2 separate regions of the Homo sapiens genome follow, and region 2 is linked to region 1. The links come from fine-mapping of genetic effects on gene expression. A gene starts in region 1. The other region holds a variant in brackets. All regions are shown on one strand. Distances are between the middles of the regions. Region 1 holds the start of MYCBP (MYC binding protein). Region 2 holds the start of LOC105378662 (a long non-coding RNA gene).

Region 1 (5,378 bases):
TGGCTTCATCTGCAATACAGAACAACCAGGCTGCAGAAATGTATGCTACGACCAGGCCTTTCCTATCTCCCTCATTAGATACTGGGTTCTGCAGGTGATATTTGTGTCTTCACCATCCCTGGTCTACATGGGCCATGCATTGTACCGACTGAGAGTTCTTGAGGAAGAGAGGCAAAGGATGAAAGCTCAGTTAAGAGTAGAACTGGAGGAGGTAGAGTTTGAAATGCCTAGGGATCGGAGGAGATTGGAGCAAGAGCTTTGTCAGCTGGAGAAAAGGAAACTAAATAAAGCTCCACTCAGAGGAACCTTGCTTTGCACTTATGTGATACACATTTTCACTCGCTCTGTGGTTGAAGTTGGATTCATGATTGGACAGTACCTTTTATATGGATTTCACTTAGAGCCGCTATTTAAGTGCCATGGCCACCCGTGTCCAAATATAATCGACTGTTTTGTCTCAAGACCAACAGAAAAGACAATATTCCTATTATTTATGCAATCTATAGCCACTATTTCACTTTTCTTAAACATTCTTGAAATTTTCCACCTAGGTTTTAAAAAGATTAAAAGAGGGCTTTGGGGAAAATACAAGTTGAAGAAGGAACATAATGAATTCCATGCAAACAAGGCAAAACAAAATGTAGCCAAATACCAGAGCACATCTGCAAATTCACTGAAGCGACTCCCTTCTGCCCCTGATTATAATCTGTTAGTGGAAAAGCAAACACACACTGCAGTGTACCCTAGTTTAAATTCATCTTCTGTATTCCAGCCAAATCCTGACAATCATAGTGTAAATGATGAGAAATGCATTTTGGATGAACAGGAAACTGTACTTTCTAATGAGATTTCCACACTTAGTACTAGTTGTAGTCATTTTCAACACATCAGTTCAAACAATAACAAAGACACTCATAAAATATTTGGAAAAGAACTTAATGGTAACCAGTTAATGGAAAAAAGAGAAACTGAAGGCAAAGACAGCAAAAGGAACTACTACTCTAGAGGTCACCGTTCTATTCCAGGTGTTGCTATAGATGGAGAGAACAACATGAGGCAGTCACCCCAAACAGTTTTCTCCTTGCCAGCTAACTGCGATTGGAAACCGCGGTGGCTTAGAGCTACATGGGGTTCCTCTACAGAACATGAAAACCGGGGGTCACCTCCTAAAGGTAACCTCAAGGGCCAGTTCAGAAAGGGCACAGTCAGAACCCTTCCTCCTTCACAAGGAGATTCTCAATCACTTGACATTCCAAACACTGCTGATTCTTTGGGAGGGCTGTCCTTTGAGCCAGGGTTGGTCAGAACCTGTAATAATCCTGTTTGTCCTCCAAATCACGTAGTGTCCCTAACGAACAATCTCATTGGTAGGCGGGTTCCCACAGATCTTCAGATCTAAACAGCGGTTGGCTTTTAGACATTATATATATTATCAGAGAAGTAGCCTAGTGGTCGTGGGGCACAGAAAAAATAGATAGGGGCAGCTCTAAAGACCAGCTGTTAAGACAGACAACTGCAAACTCATTTAAGCAAGAGAAAAACAGCTCTAATTCGAGATTGTGAAGCAACACTTCTAAATTCAAAGACATAGAGTTGTCAAATCAGGATTTTTTTTTTTTTAAATGATATCCTTTCGAATGTAACTGATTTTGGGAAAATCACATGTTCAGAATTGAGGCTAAATGGTTTGATCAGGTTTTCTCTTTGAAGAGACCACAGCCTTAGGAAATGGTTCTTGATCTATACAATTCCACCTTGGACACTGGGTTAATTCTGTTTGCCCCTGGAACACAATCACGTAAGTTTCCTTCTAGACTGGCATCCTGATGTGTCTTGAGTATAATCACATGTTGCTACCTAGTAAATAAAATCTTAAGAAGATCCGTGGCTTTCCTTCACCAGTTCATAGCATCGTGATTCATTGCCCGGATTGGACTCGACTCTACTCACTGGACATCTAACCACTCCACTTAATTAACAATACCCACCCTACAGGGGTGTTGTAAGGATTAAAATTTAAAATACCCGTGTTTTCTACAGTGCCTGGCTCAAAAGCTACTGCAAGCTCGTTACTGCTCATCCTCCAGAGGCCCACATCAAGTCAGCCACGACTCAAGGAGACTCCAAAGATAAAAGCTGAAGCCAAAATATATGATTCTAAACACCCTCCTCGGCTACTGCAAAGCACTGTGAGCACTTTCTCAGGACGAGAGCCAAGAAGCCCAGCACCTATGGGTCACCACAGTTTCCGAGGTCCCAGATGAAAAAGATGCGCTCGCTACCACCGTGCGGCGGTCCTTTCTCTCGCAATAGTCTCAATGCTCCCGGGCCCTGCCTCCGGACGCCAGGACAGAGGTACCAAAATCTCACCTCCTGCAAAGAAACCTAATTGCTACGGGGGCCGGAAGAGGAAGAGGTGCGGCTCCGACAGCCAGAGGGGCGGGCATACGCAGCCTCCCTCGGCTCAGCCTGCTACTGGGGATGCAGAGCGTCCTGGTCGCCATGAAAACAGGCCACACCTCGGCGATCCCGGCCGGTGGTTTGCAAGTGCGCAGGCGCGCGCCCCCTTCCGCGCATGAGCAGTGCTGCTCCCAACCCGCCAGTCGCGGTCTCCGGCGCCAGCTACGCCGCTGCCGCTGTCACTATGGCCCATTACAAAGTGAGGGGGGCGCGGCGTGGCTGGGGGCATGCGGGCGGTAGCAAGCCGCTGGTCGGCTCTGGGTGGGAGTGGGGTCGCGCGCGCAGGTTTGGGCGGGAGGGCCCCGAGGTAGTGAGGCGGAGGCGGGGTTGCCGGACTCCCAGCGCCTTCTTCCTGCTCGGCTCCCGGGCTCTGGCCACTGACCCCCGGTGTCTCTTCAGGCCGCCGACTCGAAGCGTGAGCAGTTCCGGAGGTACTTGGAGAAGTCGGGGGTGCTGGACACGCTGACCAAGGGTGAGCCTGGGCTAGGAGAGGGTACCTCGTGCCCTCGTCGTGCTCCCCGGCGCTGCCCCGTTCCCCAGCGGGCCGTAGCGTGGGGAAGGAGGGGAAACAGATGGGGCCCGTCCGGGGTCCAGCGAGGTGGGCCTCGGGGTTCAGCAGGGACCTGGCTGCTGGACGCCGCCCGGGTGGGGTAGCCTAGCTCCGCTACCCTTCTCCGCACCGGGAGTGAAACTCTTGCAGCTGTTGCAAAGTCTCTTCAACTTCCGTTGCTTTGCCTCCAGCAGCCGCAGTGGACATGTTTGCCAAGGACCTTCAGATCCCAATTCCTCCCACCTTACGGTTTTTATGGAGTCCTCAGAATCTTGTTAAGAAAGTTTCCCTCCAACAAAGAGCAACTGGAAAAATGACCGAATTTCCAAGTGGGCTATGAAGTAGCTGAGTGAGCCTAATCCCCAAAGTAGGAGATTCATAGCGAATTTGGCTGTGGCTTTTCAGCCCCCATTCCTTAGTCTGTCTGTGTCAATTCTTATTTTGTGTATATTTCATAAAGTAGAATTACAGCTTAAAGAGCTCGAGGGCATATCAAGGTGGTTACATTGTTTTCACTTTTTAAAATGAAAGCTTACTGTTAACGCTGTATCTCTTCATTCGTGGCTTCAAGATCTAAGTTAAGTAGATGAGTAAAGTGTTGGAAACAGGAGGATTTCAAGGGGTAGGGTACAGTTTACTTTATTGGCTTAGCACTAATTTGAATGCCTGCTATGTGTCACTCAACTCACTGGGATATTCAAGGGTGTAGAATGGAATTGTTCGCAGGGATGAGGACTTGGGTCATATGAAACTAGGAAGTTTGGGAAGTGGGAAATAAATTGGTAACTGCCCTTTGGACAGAAGCAAAGTTTAGAGGAAAATTCTAGGAGCATAACTCCTGGGTCTTAGAAGAAAGAAGGCTAGTAATTTTGAATTGCTACCTATTTGGGGTTCAGATAATAGTTTACCTCTTTGCAAATAAACTTCAGCAAGTCTTAAGGGACTACTCTGTGAAAGTACTGTGCTATGTTGTCTCTGAAAGTGTCACAGATGCTTTGAATGTCATTCCGTCTAAAAACTCCTTACGTTCATTTCTTTCATTTAATAATTTTACTCAGGTGTCTGTTCTGCACACTGGAGATAAGCAGGGGAGGATAAAAGTCTCGGCTCTCATAAGCTTATATCCTAGTTGAGGGAGAGAAATACATAAATAAATATGTAGTGTCAGCTAGTGGTAAGTGGTACAGATAAAAATACAGCAAAGTTAGGGATAAAGAGTAACAGGTGAGGCCAGGCACGTGGCTCATGCCTGTAATCTCAGCACTTTGGGAGGCTGAGGTGGGTGGACTGCTAGAGGCCAGGAGCTCAAGACCAGCCTGGGCAACATGGCAAAACTCCCATCTCTTAAAAAAAAAAAAAAATTGCTGGGCATGGTGTGTGCCTGTAATCTAGCTACTGTGGAGGCTGAGGTGAGAGAATCACCTGAGCCCAGGAGGTCAAGGCTGCAGTGAGTTGTGATTGTGCCACTGGGCAACAGTGACACTCTGTCTCCAAAAAAAAAAAAAAAAAAAAGTGACAGGTGGGATGTGTGTGTCATTTTATATAGGGTGATGGGGGGAAGGCCTTTCTTAAGAAGTAATTTTTGACCAGAAACCTGAAAGAAACAGAGTTTCAGGAAGTCTAAGGAGGCCAGAGTGGTTGGATGGAGCAAGTGAAAGACTGAATGGTAAAAGGCAGAAAAATGACAGTTGTAGGCGGTAACTGACTACACAGAAGATGTTGCCCAGGCTGGAGTGCAGCGGCATGATCTCGGCTCACTGCAACCTCCACCTCCGGGTTCAAGCGATTGTGTTGCCTCAGCCTTCCAAGTAGCTGGGATTACAGGCATGTGCCACCATGCTTAGCTAATTTTTTGTATTTTTAGTAGAGAGGCGGTTTCACCACATGGGCCAGGCTGGTCTTGAACTCCTTACCTCAGGTGATCCGCTCACCTCAGCCCCGCAGAGTGCTGGGATTACAGGTGTGAGCCACCGCCCTCCACTAGAATTTAACCTCTCAATCTCCTTAGATTTCCAGGCTCCTAAATAACATCAGCCAACACAGTATTGATGTGATTTATTAAAAATTTGATTTTCAGCTCCAAACATAGGTGCTTTACACAATTCTATTTGTTTTTTTTTTTTTTTTTTTTTTTTTTTTTGAGACGGAGTCTCGCTCTGTCGCCCAGGCCGGACTGCGGACTGCAGTGGCGCAATCTCGGCTCACTGCAAGCTCCGCTTCCCGGGTTCACGCCATTCTCCTGCCTCAGCCTCCCGAGTAGCTGGGACTACAGGCGCCCGCCACCGCGCCCGGCTAATTTTTTGTATTTTTAGTAGAGACGGGGTTTCACCTTGTTAGCCAGGATGGTCTCGATCTCCTGACCTCATGA
Region 2 (5,378 bases), 39 kb before region 1:
GCTAACTCTAAGGCCAGCATCCTTTCTTACTTTTTTTTTTTTTTGAGATGGAGTCTCGCTCTTGTCACCAGGCTAGAGTGCAGTGGTGTGATCTCGGCTCACTGCAACCTCCGCCTCCTGGGTTGGAGCGATTCTCCTGCCTCAGCCTCCTGAGTAGCTGGGATTACAGGCACCTGCCACCAGGCCGGGCTAATTTTTATACTTTTAGTAGAGACGGGGTTTCACCATGTTGGCTAGGCTAGTCTTGAACTCTGACCTCAGGTGATCCATCCGCCTTGGCCTCCCAAAGTGCTGGGATTACAGGTGTGAGCCACTGTGCCCTTAAGGCCAGTATACTTTATATTGCATTATAACTGCCCAATATTAGTATTTAGGAATATTAATGAGAAGAGATCAAATCATTGCAAAACCAAAAGCATGTTCCCCTAGTTGTCTAATGTTGTTAAATATACTCTTTAGGCTATGAAAATGGTGGTGCTGAATAACCAGTCTCCTCCTCCACCATCATACATCAAACAAAATTTAGTTCATGGCCGGGCACAGTGCCTCACACCTGTAATCCCAGCACTTTGGGAGGCTGAGGTGGATAGATCACCTGAGGTCAGGAGTTCAAGACCAGCCTGACCAATATGGTAAAACCCCGTCTCTACTAAAAATACAAAAACTAGCTGGGCGTGGTGGCATGCGCTTGTAATCTCAGCTACTCAGGAGGCTGAGACAATAAAATTGCTTGAACCCAGGAGGCGGAGGTTGCAGTGTGCCGAGATCGCGCCACTGCATTCTAGAGTAGGTGACAGAGTGAAACTCTGTCTCAAAAATAAAATAAAATAAATTTAGTTCATGAACATATTGATGAGTGTGGGATACTGTTATCCATCTGGAATAATACTGGTAATAGGAGATGCAGTGCCCGCCATTTAGTTTTGCCTACAGTTTCTTTCTTTCTTTTTTTTTTTTGAGATAGAGTCTAGCTCTATCGCCAGGCTGGAGTGCGGTGGTGCGATCTCGGCTCACTGCAACCTCTGGCTCCCTGGTTTAAGCCATTCTCCTGCCTCAGCTTCCCGAGTAGCTGGGATTACAGGCACGTGCCACCACGCCCAGCTAATTTTTGTATTTTTAGTAGAGACGGGGTTTCACCATGTTGGCCAGGATGGTCTCAATCTCCTGACCTTGTGATCCGCCTGCCTTGGCCTCCCAAAGTGCTGGGATTACAGGCGTGAGCCACTGTGCCCGGCCGCCTATAGTTTCTTAAATGCCGATGGCCTTTCATGAACTCACTCAGCATCCATGATCCACCATGCCCACTGCAGACAGCGAGCAGCTTCCTGTTGGCCCCACCTATCCGGTGGACTCTTGTGGTCTCAGGTGGGGCCAACCTTTTCTGTGCAGTCTACCCAACTCTGGACTTGAAAACGACTTGTAGCTGGGGTGTGGTGATGTGTACCTGCAGTCCCAGCTACTTGGGAGGCTGACGAAGGAGGATCGCTTTGAGTCCAGGAGTCTGAGACCAGCCTGGGCAACATAGAGAGTGCTCTACAAAAAAAAAAAAAAGTTAAAAATAAATAAAAAATAAAATAGAAAGGATGACACTTTTGCTTAGTGGCTAAATAGGCATCAGGACACATGGCTCAGAGGCTTGACAAATCAGGGGCAAAATCACCAACTGCTCAGTTTCCATTTAACAAGTATGTTCTGAGCAAACATGGCTCCCGCACACAAGGACTTTAAGATGATAAGAAGGAACATGTCAGTTAAATAGCAATGTAAGGCAGTACAGTATTATAGTATATAGTAGGCTGGGTGCAGTGGCTCATGCCTTGTAATCCCAGCAGTTTGGGAAGCTGAGGTGGTCACCTGAGGTCAGGAGTTTGAGACCAGCCTGGCCAACATGGTGAAACCCCGTCTCTAGTAAAAATACAAAAATTAGCTGGGCGTGGTGGCAGGTGCCTGTAACCGCAGCTACTTGGGAAGCTGAGGCAGGAGAATCGTTTGAACCCAGGAGGTGGAGGTTGCAGTGAGCCGAGATCGCGCCACCGCACTCCAGCCTGGGTGACAGAGTGAGACTCTGTCTCAAGAAAAAAAAAAAAATACACACACACACACACACAC[G/ACG]TGTATATGTAAATACACACACACACACACACACACACACACACACACACACATATATATATATATATATATATATATATGGTATATGGTAGTTACTTAGCTTCCTTGTCCTTTAGTTTCCTCAGGTGTAAAATGGAGTAATATGAATAGTACCTACCTCATAAAGTTGTTGTGATTAAATGAGATAATGGCTATAATTTTCACTGTGCCTAACACATAGTAAGGCACTTAAAAAGAATCTGTGGCCAGGAGCAGTGGCTCACACCTGTAATCCCAGCCCTTTGAGGGGCTGAGGTGGATGGATTGCTTGAACCCAGGAGTTTGAGACCAGCCTGGGTGACACGGTGAAAACCCCATCTCTACAAAAAAATAAAATAAAATAAAAAATTAGATCTGCACAGGGTGTGTGCCTGTAGTCCCAGCTGCTGGGGAGGCTGAGGTGGGACGATTAAGGAATCCTCAGGCCCAGGAGATGGAAATGTAGTGAGTCGAAATCGAGACACTGCACTCTAGCTTGGGTGAAGGGAGTGAAACCCTGTCTCAAGAAAAAAAAAAAACGGGCCAGGCGCGGTGGCTCATGCGTGTAATCCCAGCACTTTGGGAGGCCAAGGCGGGTGGATCAATGAGGTCAGGAGTTCGAGACCAGCCTGACCAACATGGTGAAACCCCATCTCTACTAAAAATACAAAAATTAGGCCGGGCATGGTGGCTCACTACTGTAATCCCAGTCTTTGGGAGGCTGAGGCAGGTAGATCACCTGAGGTCAGGAGTTTGAGGCCAGCCTGACCAACATGAAGAAACCCTGTCTCTACTAAAAATACAAAATTAGCTGGGCATGGTGGCGCATGCTTGTAATCACAGCTACTCAGCAGGCTGAGGCAGGAGAATCGCTTGAACTCAGAAGGTGGAGGTTGCAGTGAGCCGAGATCATGCCATTGTACTGCAGCCTGGGCAACAAGAGCAAAACTCCGTCTACCAAAAAAAAAAAAATTAGCTGGGCGTGGTTGCAGGCACCTGTAATCTCAGCTACTAGGGAGGCTGAAGCGGGAGAATCGCTTGAACCCAGGAGGCAGAGATTGCAGTGAGCCAAGATCATGCCATTGCACTCCAGCCTGGGCGACAGAGGGAGACTTCGTCCAAAAAAAAAGAAAAAAAAATTAGCCAGGAGTGGTGGCACATGCCTGTAGTCCCAGCTACTTGGGAGGCTGAGGCATGAGAATTACTTGAACCCTTGAGGCAGAGGTTCTGGTGAGCAGAGATTGCACCACTGCACCCCTGGCTGGGAGACACAGCAAGTCACACACGCGCGCGCGCGCGCACACACACACACACACACACACACACACACACACACACACACAGAAAAAAGAAAAAGAAAAAAAGAGTTGTCTGCGAAGAAAAATTAGAAAATGGAATTCTAGTTAAGCAAATCCTTAACTAGAGAAAACACATGAAAGTCTGTTCATCTCCCAGGGAAATAACTGCTTGGTTTAGTCATAATATTTGACAACTATTGTTTGTCTTTGCAGAGTTCAGCACATCTTGGGGAATCTTTGTATGCAGCTTGTTTTGGGTATTCCCTTGGAAATGGTCCACAAAGGCCTCCGTGTGGGGCTGGTGTACCTGGCAGGAGTGATTGCAGGTCAGTGTTCTGAGGTAACACAGAATCAATACCTCTGGGCTCTTAGGATTAAAAGCAAATGAAATACACACTTATAGTAGGCTTCTTTAAGTCAAGGTTTACTGCACTCCTAATATGTGCTCGGGAACACATTAAGCCTTAGAGATCATTGAATTAGAGATACTATCAGCAAGCAAAGACAAGTCATTGTGCCTGTCCTCAGGTATCTCACACTCAAGACAGGGTTTTGCATAATTGAAATTGCAAGTATGCCTGGCGCTCCTGCCTGTAATCCCAGCACTTTGGGAGGCTGATGTGGGTAGATCACACGAGGCCAGGAGTTCGAGACCAGCCTGGCCAATATGGTGAAACCCTCTCTCCACCAAAAATACAAAAATTAGCTGGGGGTGGTGGCTCACCCCTATAATCCCAGCTACTCAGGGGGCTGAGGCACCAGAATCACTTGAACCTAGGGGGCGGAGATTGCAGTGAGCCAAGATTGTGCCACTGCACTCCACACTCTAGCCTGGGCAACAGAGCGAGACTCTGTCTCAAACAAACAAACAAACAAAAAAAAAAAAAAAAAAAAGAAAAGGAATAAAGAAAACTGCAAGTAGTTTGGTGTACAGGTACGTATTTGAGTAAAGGTCTAAAGCCAGATCATGGAGGCCCTTATATGTCAGACTACTGATTTTGAGAAGTAACATGATCAGATTTGCATTTAAGAAAGACAACTTTAAGAGAATGTAGAGAATAACCAAAGGGGCTCTAAGACTGGGTAGGTAAAAGTAGCATACGTCAGTGATCCCTAAATCTGGGTGTGCCTAAGATGATCCATTATGGCATGGGAAGAAAATATTAGAACTCCCATCCATCCATTTGTTTATTTATTGGAAACATTTTTTTAAAAAATTAAACTTTTAATTTTGCGATAATTGTAGATTTACATGCAGTTGTTAGAAATAATGCCTAGAGGTCTTATGTACCCTTTAAACCAGCGATCCCCAATGGTGACATCTTGCAAAACATTAGTACTGTATCACAACTAGGATATCCACGTTGATATAGTCAGGGTACAAAACATTTTCAAACCATATGGATCCCTTATGATGCCTTTTTATAGCTATACCATCTTCTGTCCCACCCTCCTTTACCTCTGGCAACCACTAACCTGTTCTCCATTTCTATAATTTTGTCATTTGAAGAATATTATATAAATGGAATAATCCGGTATATACCCTTGTGGGATTGATTTTCTTCACTCAGCATAATTCTCCGGGGATTCATCTAGGTTGTTGCATGTGTCAATAGTTTATTCCTTTTTATTGCCCAGTATTCATTCCATAAAATGGATATAGCACTGCTTGTTTAACCATTCACTCATTGAAGGTTATCTGAGTTGTTTCAGTTTTTGGCTATTAGGAATAACACTACTCCAAACACTTGTGTATATGTTTTTATGAATATAAGTATGGGGTTTTGTGAACAGAGTTTTCAGTTTTCTAGGATAAATGTCCAAAGGCACAGTTGTTGGAACATATGATAGTGGCATATTTTATTTTTTAATTTAATTTAATTTAATTCATTAATTTATTTATTTTGAGATGGAGTCTTGCCCTGTCGTCCAGGCTGGAGTGCAATGGTGCGA

Evidence for each region. PIP is the estimated chance that this variant, and not a neighbour inherited with it, causes the effect.
Region 2: its variant is fine-mapped to the expression of MYCBP in whole blood (INTERVAL, PIP 0.96).

What each region holds. Positions count from the first base shown.
Region 1 is chr1:38,870,572-38,875,949 of GRCh38, reverse strand. MYCBP (MYC binding protein) reads left to right here and starts at 2,602. Exons shown (of 5, transcript NM_012333.5): 1 at 2,602-2,659; 2 at 2,860-2,932. The coding sequence starts at 2,645. GJA9 (gap junction protein alpha 9) reads left to right here. Exons shown (of 2, transcript NM_030772.5): 2 at 1-1,881. The coding sequence ends at 1,399. It overlaps RRAGC-DT (RRAGC divergent transcript), which reads right to left. Exons shown (of 2, transcript NR_186075.1): 2 at 1-9. The region is part of intron 1 of GJA9-MYCBP (GJA9-MYCBP readthrough); the gene reads left to right. RefSeq lists an enhancer at 3,046-3,568.
Region 2 is chr1:38,909,695-38,915,072 of GRCh38, reverse strand. It overlaps RHBDL2 (rhomboid like 2), which reads left to right. Exons shown (of 8, transcript NM_017821.5): 4 at 3,639-3,751. It overlaps LOC105378662 (a long non-coding RNA gene), which reads right to left and starts at 1,533. Exons shown (of 2, transcript XR_001737994.2): 1 at 1,445-1,533. The variant G/ACG (reference allele first, on the strand shown) is at 2,110.